2 separate regions of the Homo sapiens genome follow, and region 1 is linked to region 2. Evidence: fine-mapped expression QTL. Tissue or cell type: whole blood. Region 2 holds a variant in brackets; the other region holds the start of a gene. All regions are shown on one strand. Distances are between the middles of the regions.

The links. PIP is the estimated chance that this variant, and not a neighbour inherited with it, causes the effect.
Region 1: PCMTD1 starts here. The variant in region 2 is fine-mapped to the expression of PCMTD1 in whole blood (INTERVAL, PIP above 0.99).

Annotation. Positions count from the first base shown.
Region 1 is chr8:51,897,638-51,900,490 of GRCh38, reverse strand. It overlaps PCMTD1 (protein-L-isoaspartate (D-aspartate) O-methyltransferase domain containing 1), which reads left to right and starts at 1,455. Exons shown (of 6, transcript NM_052937.4): 1 at 1,455-1,561. It overlaps PCMTD1-DT (PCMTD1 divergent transcript), which reads right to left and starts at 1,176. Exons shown (of 4, transcript NR_189279.1): 1 at 645-1,176. RefSeq lists enhancers at 339-398, 699-758, 929-1,218 and a silencer at 1,259-1,948.
Region 2 is chr8:51,757,963-51,760,462 of GRCh38, reverse strand. All of the region lies in intron 1 of PXDNL (peroxidasin like), which reads left to right. It overlaps LOC105375833 (a long non-coding RNA gene), which reads left to right. Exons shown (of 3, transcript XR_928869.3): 2 at 181-249. Among named protein-coding and RNA genes, the nearest start is that of PXDNL, 50 kb to the left of the region's middle. The variant G/T (reference allele first, on the strand shown) is at 1,509.

The sequences.
Region 1 (2,853 bases), 140 kb before region 2:
GGGAGTAGTAACCCTAGCATAAAGACGTTCTAATTCTAACTTACCTTAGGTAACCTATAAGGGTAGCTTACGCTCACTCTCATACTTGAAAATCAAAACCGAACAGAATTCACACGATGGAAGCAAATCATGCTACAACCTACTATTAGAGACTGAAGGGAAACGCACAAAGATTAATGAACAACAAAGAACACTTCAAAAAGTACAGTATTTGGAAAAGACATGCCTTTATGTACACTAAAACTAATTTAAAAAATTAAATGCAGTTTGCTAGGAGTCTTACAAGTATTAACAGCATGTTCACTGCTTAGGATCCTTAGTAGCAATATTTTCCCGGCTCGCCTGCCCCTATGCCTCATTTCCTCTTCTTTTTTTTTTTGAGATGGAGTTTCGCTCTTGCCGCCCAGGCCAGGTGCCATCTCAGCACTGCAACCTCCGACTCCCGGGTTCAAGCGATTCTCCTACCTCAGCCTCCCGAGTTGCTGGGACTACAGGCGCACGGCACCACACCCGGCTAATTTTTGTATTTTTAGTAGAGACGGGGTTTCACCATGTAGGCCAGGCTGGTCTCTAAGTCCTGACCTCAGGTGATCCGCCTGTCTCGGCCTCCCAAAGTGCTGGGATGACAGGCGTGAGCCACTCACCCGGCCCTCTTCTCGACTTTCTATCCCTCCTCCTCAACACCCTTTCCTTCTGGAAATGGGCTTTGGGGTGGTTAACCAAGCCCAGGGAAACTTGCGTGGCCCAGCATCTTCCGTCCGCTGCAGGAGGAGCACACGCCCCCGGCCCGGGTCAGCAAGACGCGAGAAAGCGGCCACGCCGGGCGTCCGGGAGCTGAGGCTGGAGGGCGCCTGGCAGGCAGGGCGGGGCCCAGGCGGCGGGAGTGCTTATGACCGGCGCTGGGGGGAACTTCTGGACGTCAAGGGGCCACTATAAAGCGGCACAGTCTTGAGCCTTCGCTCTTCACCTAAGTCAGTGAGCGCCCTTCGCAAAGCCTCTGTGGAGGTAACCATTGGGGGTTCGCCTCCAAATCCAGGAATGCACCTCAAAAATGCTCCTACACCGTAAGACCGTGTCCTTCAATGCAAAGGGGACTGTGCGGCGAGGCACCGACAAGCCGTAGCCCTGAGACCACTGAAAGCCTGCACCCCAGCGCCGGTGCGAGAACGTGGAGATGGCGGTGGGGAGGAGAGGTGGAGGCCATGCTCTCGCGTGATCTCCCCTACCGCCATCGTCTTCTGGCCTGTCAAGGCCTCGCGTTGTTTGGGCTTGGGGGCGGAGCGAGCCCTGAGGGGGGCGGGGCCAGATGGGGGCGTCTCCCGGCCTTGTTGACTTTGGCGTCCGCGGGGAGCTGCCCCTGTGCCCGTGGTTCTCTGCGCATGCCCGGACCCCGGCGGCTCCGGAGTCCGGGAGGCTCTGGCTGCTCCAGTCGCGGGTCCGGGCCCCGCCTCTCCACTCGGCGGTGGCGTCCGTGTTGTTATTGTGGTGGTAGCGGCGTCTGGCTGCTGCGGACCCCGCCGAGTCCTAGCGCCTGGCCTGCGCGCCGCTGCCCGCGCCACAGGTAACGCCGCCGCCAGTGGGGGCTCGGGGTCGTGGGGTGTGCGAGTCCCGCGTGCTAGGGCCGGGCGGGCGACTGGGATGCGCTTGGAGGCCAGAGGGCCAGGGGGACGGCAGCCGAAGAGTCGGGGGCAGGGGGACTTAAGGGCGGGCAGGTCGGGGGCCAGGAAACTGAGGCGCTGCGGGGCAGGTTGGGGGAAGGACGGGCCGGGGGCGGAGGACTTGGGAGGTCGGGGAGTCGAAAGGGGCCCAGCGAAGCCTGGAGGTCGGGAGCCGGGGTCCCTGGGGCCGGGGAGGTCGGGGGCCCGAGGGAGGCCGGGGCGCCGCGTCCTCGGCCCGTCCTCGGCTCGTCCTCGGCTCTGACCTGGGCTTGGGGACCAGAGTCCCGAGGCTGGCGTCTTGAGATGCCCGCGGGCCCCTTAGGGCCGTTTTGGATCCGCCCAGTGACTTCTGTTTTGGTTTTGGAGGCAGAGAATCCAGTCTACGTAGACTCGGGGAAGTCTCGGGGGCTGGGAGGGGACTGAGAGGTTATAGCAGGCGCCAAGGCCTCTTTTTGTGTTTTTGAGCGTCTACTACCGTTCCGGGGAAGTGCAGTGCCCGCGTTTTGCTTGGGGAATTTCAGACACCGGCATGGGGAGGACCCACGGGCAGAACCCGAGGGAGTAATTTTGCAAATCCAAGATTTTTTGGAACTTCTATAATTTTGTTTTCGTGTGTCCTCTTTTTAGAATCGAGAAACCAGAGATATATTTTTAACATTACAAATCAGAAGAATTTGCTACGGAGGAAAAAAGTATGCTTTTAGCAGTGTTTTTCCCCTATTTATTTTTTTAATTACAAAAGTACTGCTTGCTCCTTGAGAAAAACATGAAGCAGCCAAACAATGAGGAAACCTGCCCTCTCTCGCGCCCTTCCCCCCATATTTCTCCTTCTTACTACCCAGGGTAGCCAGTCTCCAAGTGTGGTGGGTAGTTATTCAGGATTTTTTTTTTCTGTGCATTTAATGAGTGTGCTTTAGAAACAAGATTGGGATCATATATAGTACAGTATATCGTTTTATTAGCCAACAATGCATCATGGATATTCCTCCATTTTATTACACACCTCATTATTTTAAAAAACATTATTACTATGTATTAGAGAATCCAATCTACGTAGGCTTGGGGAAGCCTTTTCTTCATTGTTAAACATGGTCGCCAAGTTTTCAATAATCAGTAGCTTTGAAAAGGGCTACAAGCCAATATTTTGAAACAATGTGGCAAAACTTTCAGAATGTCTGCGGCCAGACGACATTAC
Region 2 (2,500 bases):
TGACAAATTTCCAAGGGAGGATTCATTTTATTTCTGTGCTCTGAATATTTATTTAGAACACAATGCTACTCATTGTAATTTCACAATAGCTTTTTTTTTTTTAATTAAGCCTAGTAAACCATACTACTTTGTGAGCTTTACTAACCTCACTAACTCTCTTATTCCTTCCTACTGGTCTAGCATCTTAGACTAAACACCAGCTAGAATGTGGAGTTAGGCAATCAAGTGTGAAACTTAACTTGTACTTGTGTAAGTATTAATATATACTTTTACTCTTTAAACTTGTTAAGAATGAGAGATTTCCAAATTAGTCTTGACAGACAATCAGTTTTTGATGGACTTCCGAGTTTTAACATATGAAAATACATTTTTGTTTATAAAATATAAATTCCAACAAGGGTAGCTTGGGTTCTGAGCTAATTATTAGGGAATTCGAGTTTCTTCCTTTACCTGGAGAAGAGTAGCCTCAGAACTGATAGAGAAGTTAGAGAGGGGCCTTAAGTGGACCCTCAAGAAACAGCACCTGAACTTTTGGGGCGGCTGAGGTCAGCAGGATTTACTGAGGACTGTTAGGTGCCCCGAGGGCATTGCCTTGGCCAATTCATCCTTGTAACAACCCTGTCACCAAGCAAGATATTTCACTGGGCAGGAAATGAAGACCCACGTTAAATTAAATGTTCAGACATCTGTCTAGGAAACTGGAGCAGGTGGGGAACTTGGCTCCTTTGACGTTCAGTCAAGTATAAGAACAATGTAATTTGTGTTCTTCTTGCTTATTGCTATTTAGTTTCTTGCAGCACAGCTCTTAAAGCATGACAAAGGAATGGTCATCTCTGGAAGTATTTTTAAATGGAGAACTAATCCATCAGTCATTCTTGCCTGAGGAGGATTCTCTGCTCTCCTACTCTCTCTCTCCCTCCAGTATTTAGGGCGTGCCTATTTTGTGCTGGTCAGAGTGCTTCATGGCCCTCCCTGTGGCTCTCACACTCAAATCGGGGACATAGATAATCAAGAGAAAATGATTAAATACAGAGTGCAAATTCTGAGACGTCCTATGCAGGAAGCGGAGTGCAGTGAGGGGGCACTGGTGGTGGGGGATGAACTTATTTAGAAACTTCATCAGGGCTGGCCTGCCAGAGAAGGTGGCATTTAAATTGACGCTTTCAGATAGAAGAGGCAGCCAAGCAGAGATGTGAATTCTAAGACAGGAATAAATTTGGACAGAGACTGAAAGAGGGCAGTGAGGTTGGCTAGAGCTTAGTGGCTGTGGGAGAGCATCACAAGACTGAGTAGATGAGGTACCTTCTTCAACCAATGCGGGGGCAAACAAAGAACCCCTGGGAGCCTCTGTACATCAGGTCCAGTACTCAGTGCTGGCACAGAGCACCCTGAAACCCTGACTCCTATTCTCATGGTCCATTCTATTCCAGCCCCAGGAAATGCTTCTCCCCATGTCTTGCTCTTTGTCCTCAAAACAAAAGGTGATACTGAGTTTCCAAATCTGCCAA[G/T]ATTCATAGGTAGTAGCAGTGGCAACACTGGAGAGAGTCACTGCTTTGTTGCTCAGGGAGGATTAGAGCTGTGGAAATTTGTAGGTAAGAGAAAGCACAAGCACATTAACTGGCTGTATGAGTCCATTTTTACACTTCTGTAGAGACCTGCCTGAGACTGGGTGATTTATAAAGGAAAGAGGTTTAATTGACTCACAGTTCTGCATGACTGGGGAGGCCTCAGAAACTTACAGTCATGGCAGAAGGTGAAGGGAAGGCACCTTCTTCACAAGGTGGCAGGAAGGAGAATGCATCTGGGAGGAACTACCAAACGTTTATAAAACCATCAGATCTCGTGAAAACTCACTATCACAAGAACAGCATAAGGAAAACCACTACCATGATCCAATTATCTCCAGTACGTCTCGCCCTTGACACATGGGGATTATGGGGATTATAATTCAAGATGAGATTTGGGTGGGACACAAAGCTTAACCATATCACTTGTCAAATCCCTTCCCTCAGCTTGAAATAGCATTCTAATTGTTGCAAAGTATTTTTTCCATGTAGTGTTGAACATCTATTTCCTTGCATTTCTTTATGAACCAAATATGGTCGGGAATTACTCATACATTAGCATGGAATTTGTGATACTTGCACATGGTGGCTAAGGAATATTAGACAATTCATCTTATTATTAAATTCACAATATTCTTACATTCATATATATGTATGTTTAGCTATAATACGTGTGAGGTGGTGACTCCACTGGTGACTAGGAAGACCTTGAAAGTTTAATTACAAATAGCTTTACTTTTGTAAAAATATTTAATAAGATGTAATTAAATCTTCATAAGAAAAAGATTTTAGTTGAATTTCAATACATTTAATTTAAAATTTGACATTATTATTTACATTTGCCTTTAATTTTAAGGTAGTTTATATTATTAAAAAAACTTTTCAAAGTACATGAAAAATATGTTCAGTTTTTTATATTTAATTGGTATTTTCAT